Homo sapiens: one gene and its partners. The protein of the gene in region 1 interacts with the protein of each later gene in a pairwise test. Each region holds a gene or a part of one and is shown in the gene's direction. Other genes may lie near its edges. The genes, in order: RAB11FIP4, PKNOX1 and RAB11FIP2.

The links.
Region 2: the proteins of RAB11FIP4 (region 1) and PKNOX1 interact in a two-hybrid assay, tested with the Homo sapiens proteins (one large-scale study listed by BioGRID and IntAct).
Region 3: the proteins of RAB11FIP4 (region 1) and RAB11FIP2 interact in a two-hybrid assay, tested with the Homo sapiens proteins (one study listed by BioGRID).

Annotation. Positions count from the first base shown.
Region 1 is NC_000017.11:31,394,594-31,398,246, forward strand, and holds part of RAB11FIP4 (rab11 family-interacting protein 4), read left to right. Parts: intron 1-3,653. UniProt on the Homo sapiens protein: Acts as a regulator of endocytic traffic by participating in membrane delivery. Required for the abscission step in cytokinesis, possibly by acting as an 'address tag' delivering recycling endosome membranes to the cleavage furrow during late cytokinesis.
Region 2 is NC_000021.9:43,015,963-43,019,615, forward strand, and holds part of PKNOX1 (homeobox protein PKNOX1), read left to right. Parts: intron 1-945; coding exon 946-1,045; intron 1,046-2,170; coding exon 2,171-2,268; intron 2,269-3,653. UniProt on the Homo sapiens protein: Activates transcription in the presence of PBX1A and HOXA1.
Region 3 is NC_000010.11:118,008,861-118,012,513, reverse strand, and holds part of RAB11FIP2 (rab11 family-interacting protein 2), read left to right. Parts: intron 1-3,288; coding exon 3,289-3,516; 3' UTR 3,517-3,653. UniProt on the Homo sapiens protein: A Rab11 effector binding preferentially phosphatidylinositol 3,4,5-trisphosphate (PtdInsP3) and phosphatidic acid (PA) and acting in the regulation of the transport of vesicles from the endosomal recycling compartment (ERC) to the plasma membrane.

The DNA of each region.
Region 1 (3,653 bases):
GTTTCTTGGCCCTTATTCCCATTTAATTTCGTCTTGTTCATTTCATCACATTGTATCTGTCAAGAAAGAGAATCTAGCATCCTACCTCTATCACTCTCAGCTGTGCTGCTGCCTGCGGGCTGGAGAAGCAGTGCTTGGTGTGTCTGAATCCACAAGGCTGGTTAAACATTGCAGGGCAGGACCATGGACAGGGCCCCGAGGCACTTGTAGGGGTGGTTTTCGGCTTATGCTGTATTGACCGAGACCCGTGGAAATATATTTTGCATCTCTACTCACTACCCATCTTATCCCCTGATGCATTAAAAAATCGGAGTGTTGTTTTCCAGCGGTGGGGTGGCGGGGGGCGGGGGGGGGGGGCTCCCTTACGAAATGCAGTGTACTCTGACTGTTTCTATTTTATTTGTTTTAAAATCAGGCAGTGACATTGATTTCCCAGCCACTTGTGCTCTGGGATGGATAATGATCATTCATTAGATATGTAGTTCAGTGAACTTAGAGCTGATTGTCCACAGTTTACCACCTACCCCCAGAATACCAGGGATACCAGGATCAAATGCTTTGCAAAAACCAAAATATACTAGGTCATAAAGTATGAAATAAATATCCATGAGGCCATAATGAAATATATATATGTATAAATTATTGAACAGATGATAATAAATAAATAGGAAAATCTCTCGTATAGAAGAAATCTGAATAACGTATGTTGATAATTGCCCCATTGAGGAAGTGAAGCATAACGTCCCACCGTGTAAGCATGAGATGTGCGTAGTGGCTTCCTTATAAAGGGTAGAGTTTGGAAAGTGGGGGGAACAGCAACTGTATAGTGGAGAAACCCAACAAACACTGTCTCAGAAGGTGATCAAGGACAACATCGATAGTGACAGATTGTGATGATGGCATACACCCTTGGTGTGATGTGGTGAGAATAGAACTTTTCCTCTGTGGTCTTCCTCCCAAACCAGTAATCCCAGTCTAGTCCTGAGAAAAATGCCAGACAAATCCCATCCGAGAGGCATTCTACAAAATGCCTGATTAGGACCTCTCAAAATTGTCAAGGTCATCCAAAACAAGGAAATTTTGAGACACTGTCAGAGCCAAGTGGAGACTAAGGAGGCAGCTGACTAAATGCAGTGTGGTGTCCTGGATGGGACCCTAGAATCAAGAAGAGGACATTAGGTAAAAACTAAGGAAGTCAGGATCAAGTATGAATGTTACTTAATAATGTTATTTATGGATTAGGTTAGTCCCTGATAGTTCCCTACTTTGTTGACCTAGGTATCACAGCAGAAAAGAGGAGACAATGGGCCGGGCGTGGTGGCTCATGCCGGTAATCCTAACACTTTGGGAGGCTGAGGTGGGAGGATCACTGGAGCTCAGGAGTTCCACACCAGCCTGGGTAACATGGTGAGACCCCCCATCTCTACAAAAAATACAAAAATTAGCCCGGTGTAGTGGCGTGCACCTGTAATCCCAGCTAGTTGGGAGACTGAGGCAGGAGAATCGCTTCAACCTGGGAGGCGGAGGTTGCAGTGAGCTGAGATTACATCGCTGCACTCTAGCCTGGGTGACAGAGTGAGACCCTGCCACAAAAAAAAAAAAAAGAAAAGAAAAGAAAAGAAAAGAAAGAAATGCAGATTTTTGAGGGATGGGGGCACACCACTGCCCTGATCCTGAAAGTCTACAATGCCAGGGAGCAGGACTCTGATAAGTATGTAACATGATGGCTCAACATCCTGACCCTGTGTTGCCTTCTGATATATTGCATTGTCTCCCTAACCTCTTTAGGCCTCTATTTACTCATCCATCAAATGGGGCTGATCAGAGTCCCCATTCTATAGGGTTATTGTGGGGTTTGAGTGAGTTAATACATACAAAGGGCTTAGTCCAGTATCTGCACAGAGTAGGCATAATATCAGAATTGCTGGTGCTCTCCTTGTCATTATTATTATTTTCTAAACACTTGCAAGCATTTTTGAGAGGCTGTTCTAGGCTGGAGATTTGCTAGGAATTGAGGTCAAGATCTGGCACCGGCCTCTGTGTGCTCAACTCACCCTCCTTAACCAGCTGTGGTGTTCCTGCCCCTCTTACGTCCCCTCGGCAGTCAGAATGGTAGACATTGAAAGCAGCCAGAGATGTCCTGGACCACACTTCCCTGTGACATGGTCCTCTTCCCTTTCCAGTTTGAAGACCGTCCTTCTTGCTAGAAAAATAGAAATAAGAATCACCAAGTAGGCCTCTCCCATGCATTAACACAGCACCATCTCCTCTGGACAGTGGGCCTGTCCTGCCTGCTTGGAAATGAAATGATGGTCCCCACTGGGCTCCCTGAGTCCTCAGGTCCCCTCTGAGCTAATGCCTGCTATGGGGGAATTGCTAGTGCCACTTGGGTTAAGCCTGGGTCTTTGAAATGGCAAAGGGGTTGGGGTGCTAGGATGGGCTGAGACCGGCCAGGAGCCAGCCCTGGGGCTGGGATCGATGTCTTTTGAGATACGTGGCTTCCAGGAACAGGAGCACCTGGAACTAAAGCTCCTCTGCTCAGGAGTAGCAATTGGATAACAGGGAAGAAACAACTGTATCCCCACAGCTGTGGCTGGAGGAAGGGGTGAAGGGGAAGGTAGGGCCAGATCAGTGGTTCCCTGTAGGCAGTGAGACCTAGGCAGCCAAGAGTGGATGTGTATGAGAGAACAGGGGATGGGGAGCAGGATTGGAGGCAGGAGGCCTCCTCGGGACTGTGGCACATGGTAAGAGAGGAAGAGCATCCTAACTTGGGCAGTGGCGGGGGGTGCAGAATTGACAGGGGCCTGGAAGGCCGGCAAAGTCCCAACGAGCTACTCCCAAAAGGTGATAGTTAAAGGTGCTCTTTTGAGACCAGGCAACCTCTATGTGCCCCACCCTAATGAGGCTACCATGCAGAGTGACAAGGCTGGCACATCAGAAGGAAGGCCCAGGTGCCCTGAGCCTGGCAGAAAAGGTGGGAGTGCCTGGGACCTGAGGTGGAAGCAGGACAAGAGTGAGCCCAGAGAGATGTTCTCTTTCCTATGCTTCTGGGAAACTGTGCTCCTGAGGTTGGAGGTCATCATGGAAGTGGGGCCAGGGCTGGGGATCCCTTGGGGCCTGGGGATGGGCATGTGGCACCACACTCTGCATTGAGGCGGGAGGACGAGTCCTAGCTGGGGCACCCTCTGGCCTCTTGTGCCCACCAGTTTGGCTGTGCTGGGAGGAGGCCAGATGCAGAAAGTCTGCTGGGACTCATCCATCTTATCAGACACGCCCCTGCCTTTTTTTTTTTTTTTAATTGAAACAGGCTCTCGCTTTGTAGCTCAGGCTGGAGTTCAGGGGTGCATCATGGCTCACTGCAGCCTCGAGCTCTTGGGCTCAAACCGTCCTCCTGCCCCAGCCTCCCAAGTAGCTGGCACTGCAAGTATATGCCACCATGCTCAGCTAATTTTTTGTCAGACACTTTTTTTTTTTGAGACGGAGTCTCACTCTGTCACCCAGGCTGGAGTGCAGTGGCTCGTTGCAACCTCCAACTCCGGGGTTCAAGCGATTCTCTCACCTCAGCCTCCCGAGTAGCTGGGATTACAGCCATGTGCCACCACGCCCAGCTAATTTTTTGTATTTTTAGTAGAGACAGGGTTTTGCCATGTTGG
Region 2 (3,653 bases), on another chromosome or scaffold:
TCATGATGTTCCTCTTTTTCTAAGATCTTAAGGTGGAAGCTGGGATGATTGATTTGACTAGCTTAACTTTTATTACAGCCTAATTAATGTGGCAGGCTTTAAGCGTAGCCACTAAGCTTACACATTCCGCTCGATGATGGCCCACAGAATCACCGCCTTGGGGTGGCGTCCCCTTATGCTATGTAACTGCTCACATGTCAGGGCACATGAGTGTGCCAGGCCCGGCACTGGAGGCTCCTCTCCCCTGCCAGCTGCCCACCCAGGCGTCACAGTCAGTGGATAAAGTGGCCCATGTGGATCTAACCCCAGATGCATAGAGTCCTCCATGGGGCATGTAGAAACATTTGCATGGGGCTCGCTGTAGGCCGGGCACAGTTCCAAGCACTGTACAAGCAAGAACACTGGGGAAAGCCAAGATCACACTTAGTCCGTGCCGGGGTCAAGAGTCAAGGTGGGTGCCAGGGGCTGACTCCCCAGCACAGCTTGGAATACCTCAGCCCTGGTCACTTCTAGTGCCTCCCAGGCCTGTGCTATAATCTCTTGAATGCTCTTATCGGTCAGGGAGAGCTTGGTTCATGGAAAACTCAAGAGTCCACCAAGCCAAGTCTAATGAAAAAGATGTGTGATCAGAAAGCAGGGTCTTCCTCGATATACTCCTGGGCTGTAAGGCACGTGGAATATGGCAGTGAGATGAAGATAATCTTTTGGAAGCCACAGTGCAGGCTGACGTTGCAGGCTGGCTTGTTGTGTTTAATACACAGTTGAACATCTCTTGCTTTCCGTGTGTGCTGCGTGCATTCTGAAGCCGCGTCATCTGAGGATGTTCTTTCCCTCAAGCTTCTCTTTCCTTTTTTAATGGTGTCATTATGCTACTTATGTTAAAGTTTTAAACATGGGTTTTCCGTTTTCTAGTAATTCCTTCAACATGTGTGTTCTGACTTGCAGCAGATTCAAAGTGCCATCACAGGCACCATCAGCCCTCAGGGAATTGTGGTGCCGGCGTCCGCGCTGCAGCAGGGAAACGTAGCCATGGCGACGGTGGCAGGTACGATGACAGAAAAATGGACACACTCTCCATGAGTTTTTGCAGAAAATGGTCCTGTGTGTTAGAATGACAGTATAAATATAATTTCAAGTTCATGCCATTTTCTAATATAGCAATGTTAGAAGCTAGAGGTCTCTGAATGCCTCTTTCTTGTTAATACTCAATAACAAATATTTTATGCAGATTGTGTTTCTTTGTTTCTCTACCAAAAATATATTGGAAAGAAAAAAGGTTTTATGTAGGAATTGAAAATATACACCAAAAACCAGTTGTCATTTTCAAATAACATAGCTTTTTGTTGTGCTTTTAATAGCACCGTGAAAATCTTAAGTTTTATCATTAATTGATGACAAATAAAAATGCAGTCTTAGCATTGGTATTACTTGTAGAACAAAACCGTTACAGGAAAGGGACAGATTCCAGAGTTCCCTGATGCGTAGAGAACATTGAAAACACAAAGCATCATGGAAATGGGACACGGCAAAGAGGGAGGGGTAGAAATTTACACCAAAGACCTCACATAATAGCACAAAGGGAAACCTCAGTGGGAAAAAAAAAAGCACCATTGATCCAAAAATATAACTAGAATTAAAATAGTTATTATTTAGTACCCTTGGCCAAATCCTTAACATGTGCTAATTTTAGGAAATAGTAGAAAGCAGAGGCTAGCAAAAGGAAGGGAGCCCTCACACCCCAGGTCAGTTGGTGGTGTGTGAGCCGGGCTGTGTGGGCTGCCAGGCACATAGCGCCCACCCACCTGCCCACCCACTGCTGCAGGTGCCCGAGTAGCCCACCCAGGGAGTTTGTTTTGATACTTTATAGTGACAAGTCAACTGGCAAAGGATTGTTGATCTTTTGAAATGATTAAAAAGCTCATCAAACCAGGGATTTTATTCCTTTTGTAAGTATATCAAGAAGAGGGCTGGTCGCAGTGCCTCACATCTGTAATTCCAGCACTTTGGGAGGCCAAGGCAGGAGGATCAGTTGAAGCCAGGAGTTAGAGACCAGCCTGGGCAACAAAGCAATGTCCCTGTCTCTACAAAAAAAAAAAAAAAAAAAAAAAGAAGAATGGTTTAAATCATTGAGACTTAAAAGCAGCCTCATATTTTTATTCTCCCTTTCGAGGTGGCACAGTGTATCAGCCTGTCACGGTCGTCACTCCCCAAGGCCAAGTGGTCACACAGACATTGTCGCCTGGGACAATTAGGATCCAGAACTCCCAGGTGCGTGCGCCATTTTATGGAAGGCTTTGGGGGCGAGTGCTGCCCACATAGGGGCACAGGTAGAACAAGCATGAGCCCTTCCCTCTGCCTGAAGAGCTTTGTCTTGTGTAGCAATTTCTGGTTTCTCTGAATGTCAGTGTTTTGTTTCTTTGTACTCTTATCTCTCGCATTGTAGAGAATTTGCAAAGTTCAGAAAATTCTGAAAGAACAGGAAAAAAGTCACTCATAACCACCCCCTGCCACCCACACACACACACACACACACACACACACACACACACACACACACACACAGAGTTATCCAGTGCTAACGTTGGATCATGTGCACGTGCACCAGGGGCAGAGGTCTTGTAGGCACACACTCCCCAGGGTCCCCACAAAGGGCACGGCAGAACTGCCAGGCAAGCTTTTCAGACCAGTGAGCCTGGCCCACACCTCCATCATGACAATGTCATTGGGCCAGGGCTTTCAGGCCTCTCTGTCACCCAGGCTGGAGTGCAGTGGCGCTATCTCTGCGGCTGCTGAGCCTTGCCCGTCTTTGGTGTGTGTTATCAGTTCTTACTTTAAGAACATTGATTCTGGGCCGGGCACGGTGACGTCTGTAATCCCAGTACTTTGGGAGGCCAAGGTGGACAGATCACGAGGTCAGGAGTTCAAGACTAGCCTGGCCAGTATGGTGAAACCCTGTCCTTAAAAATACAAAAATTAGCTGGGTGCAGTGGTGCACGCCTGTAATCCCAGCTACTCGGGAGGCTGAGGCAGGAGAATCGCTTGAACCCGGGAAGCAGAGGTTGCAGTGAGCTGAGATCGTGCCACTGCACTCCAGCCTGAGCGACAGAGTGAGACTCCATCTCAAAAAAAAAAAAAAAACATTGATTCTGGCCGGGTGCAGTGGCTCACACCTGTGATCCCAGCACTTTGGGAGGCCGAGATGGGTGGATCTCTTGAGGTTAGGAGTTTGAGGCGAGCCTGTCCAACATAGTGGAACCCCGTCTCTACTAAAGATGCAAAAATTAGCTGGATGTCGGGTGCATGTCTATAATCCCAGCTGCTCGGGAGGCTGAGGCAGGAGAATTGCTTGACCTGGGAGGTGGAGGTTGCAGTGAGCCGAGATCGTGCCACAGCACTCCAGCCTGGGCAACAAGAGCAAAACTCCATCTCAAATAAAATAAAATAAACAAAAAAAAAACACACATTTTTTTGAGACTTTGCAAACCTAAAAATGAGTTTATTTTAATCTCATATTTGATATGCAGTCTGTTTACTTGTAGAATTCTGGGTTGAAAATCCTTTCTACCCAACATTGAGAAAGCATTACTTTTGTTTTTCTGAGACGAAGTCTCACTCTGTTGCCCAGGCTGGAGTGTAGTGGTGTGATCTCGGCT
Region 3 (3,653 bases), on another chromosome or scaffold:
CAATTTAAGAATCTCATGCCTAAAATTAGAAGGTTTACATTGTTTTCAAATATCAGATAAAATCTGGAACTCAGCATGAAACTGTTTTTAATTATTTTATATTCTTTTCCAGAATATAATTCATAGTACATATGTTTCTAAGATGTTTTCCTGCCTAGAAACTTGATGCTAAAATTTGAGGTGAAATTTTCACATAAAAGGACAAACGGAAAATTTATTGAAAAGGCCAGAAATGTATTTCCAGGAAATCTGTCTACACATTAGTGTTAGATTGTTGTAAGGAAAAAAAAAATAATCCAAATAACATATCTGTGTATTCTAGAGTATGGCTATAAAGTATGACCAGTAGTCTGAAATAATAATTGATTATTTTGAAAGATTAAACTATTAATTTATATCATGGCTTTAATTTATATCAAAACACAAATTTTTGAAACGTTTTTCATCTTCAGTGTCTTTAGAGAAATGTTACAAAAAATTTTTAACTACATTAACTGGTAATAGTGTTAAATATAACAGTGCACTTTTATTTTAACTATTTCATAGCTTAATTAGTTTGGAGAAATCAGTTTATATATGTGTAATTTTATTAAGATTAGAGAGACTTGAATAGATGCTTTTATTATGTTAAATAAAGAAAAAGCATAAAGCAGTCAACTAATCAGTAATGAATCCCATTTAGCTTCCTTTCATTAATCCCTGCAATTCTCACAAGAACATGAATTTCTCAGTAAATGTTTTATTAGAAAAGTGAAATCACATTAGTTAGAGTTTATTAGTTTTTAAAGTGGGGTTTAGAAAAATCACTTGGTATACCAGACAATTTTAGAGTTGAAAGGGACCATGGAGAACATCTCATCTATCAGATAAGGAAAGTGAGACCCAAGTTGCTTTCTCTCTCAAATTTATGCAGAATTACTCGAGTTGAAGTAAGACACTTTAGCTTATTTTTAAGAAATTTCAAAAGTATACCGAACTCTACACTATGTCTTCTCTTTACTGTAGAAAACGGCTTAACATAATCTTTTATAAGAATGTAATTAATACTTATGTATCTCCAAACTATATATTATGACCAATTAAACTAGTAACTACGTGCATGAGAGTGTGTGTGTGTGTGTGCGCATGTGTGTAGACTTATAAAAGATTAATTGATCTGAGAGAGGAGGGAGAAGTAAAACAACACTTATCTCTAGAATTGTCCTTTAATGGTTTTAGAACAATATTTGAAATGTTTTTAAGGATGAAGGAAATATGACTGAAACTTACATCTGTTTCCAGTTTCTAATGCTAAAATAAACTAAGTTGTTTTAGACATATTTTATAGAATTTAAACTCACTTCCCTTTAATATCCTCTCTATTCATTCTTGCTAACTCTGGTCTTTCATATTTCAATAGCCCTATACCTAATCTTAGCCCCTCCAAATGATTCCACTGTTGCCATTTTACTTTTCCTGGAACATAGCTTTAATCATATCCTTTCTCTGTTTAGAAACCTTCAGTGGCTTCCTATTTTCCATAGCAAAAGTCTAAAAATTCTTTATACTACCATTCAGCATTCTTGGTGGTCTATTTCAAACCTTCCATTTCGGCCCCTGTCTGCTCGCTGTCCTGTACAGTATTTTCCAGCCATGCTCTACAGAGTACCTGTTATTGGATTACCTGTTGGCCACTATGCCTTGAGCCTTGTTTCCTTCTTTGAACAAGCAGAGTTCACTGCTTGAAATGCCCCATTACGCATTTCTGCCTGCAAACTCTTGAAGGCCTAGCGCAAGCTGTATCTTCTCCACAAAGCCTGAGAGATTCTATGAAATTGGAAAAGTTTTTCAGTCCTGAATGTTTTCACTTATCCTGGAGAAGTGGGTGTGCTTCAATGACCCAAGCATCAAATTGGTATCTGTACTCTAGCTTCTCTTTCTCTGGTCTGGTAAAGTCCTGGTTCCTTGGGCTGAGAGGCTGGGGAAGTGGTGAGGGCCAGTGAAAAGTTAAACTTTGGCTTTTCTCATGAACACCCCCAAATACATAGCACTATTAAAGTAGATCCTGAAAACAGGGAAGGACAGTTTAATTCTTATTGGGGGTGGGGGTCATTCTGCATTCACCAGTCCCCATTCCCCATCCTCCACTGAATAGATTAGATAGTATTCCTTAACAGCAAGAAAACCAATTTCCTCAATATTTTAGTTAAGTTTCCTTAAAGCCAAATGGAAATGTTTTAAAAGATAGTGATGAAAATTATTTTAAATTGTTGGGCTTAATGAGAGAACTATGATTTAAAAAGAATAAAAAATTGCTTAGTTGTAATTGGGCATTATGTTTTACAGAATGAAAACTCTTAATGCTATACACTATAAATAAAAGATTATGTTACAGGGCCTTGATTAAATTCCTGAGAAATATTTTTCTTTCACTTTTGATATAACATTAATATTAGAATGCTTTGTAATAACAGTGAATTAATAAGTGTCTTTTAAAAAAGATTTTTGGTTATATTTATGCTTTTGCCTAAAAAGAATTTTTGTCAATAGAATAAAGTTAAGTAAATAGATGAAATGGGAGAGAATGCAAATATACTAACCGTAGTATTAATATGGTTGAACTCTTGAGTTTCCTGATAACCAGGGTCAAAAAGGGAAAGAAGATAAATTAGATATTATTATAGGAGAAAGAAATAGACCAGTTACTCAGGGGAGGAAAAGTTCTGCCTGTTTCTAAATTAAAACAGAAGTTACTCACATGGGGCTTCCTGTAAGGATAATCTTTGATTTAATTCCGAGTGCTTCCATTTTCATAGCAAATTAGAAAAGATTTTTGCTGTAACCATCTTCACTAAGAAGCCAAACATATAACATTAAATCACAGTTCAGTGGAAGCAGTTTCATAAGGACACAAGTCCAAGTGTATAGTTTTCAGTTACTTCTTACAGTTCCTCTGAGTTAACTTTTAGAAATCTTTAGTTTTCATCTATTTTAGTTGTATTTATTATAGAATATTTCATCTCTTAATGTAATCTTACATGATATAACCAGTCTCAGATATTAGGAAATTGCCCACAATGTTAGAAAGGGTTTTAGGATTTAGAGTTATAGTCAAAACTTTGGTGCATCTGCCCTAGTTCTTGCCTCAGGACTGGCTAGCCAATTTGTGAACTGTCACATTCACTTTAAGCAAGGCTAGCGAAAAACTTCATCAGGGTTTGAAAAACAAAAAGTCGAAGTTCCAGGTAATTCTTAATGTTTGTCCCAGATGTTATATCTATGAAAGTGACAGTCTTTATCCTGTTCTAGGACAGCAACCCCTTTGATGCCACTGCAGGGTATCGTAGTCTGACCTATGAAGAGGTTCTACAGGAGCTGGTGAAACACAAAGAACTCCTTAGGAGGAAAGACACCCACATCCGGGAACTCGAGGACTACATCGACAACCTCCTTGTAAGGGTAATGGAAGAAACGCCCAGTATTCTCAGAGTGCCGTATGAACCATCCAGGAAAGCTGGCAAATTCTCTAACAGTTAATAAAGCCAATTGTATTGTATTGATAATTGGACAAAGAGAGAGAAAGAAAGAAGGAAGGAAGGAAAAACTTGTTACTGAAAGAGACTACACTATCAGGTTTCATTACATATTCTCCTTTATTGTGAAGAGTAGTTTTA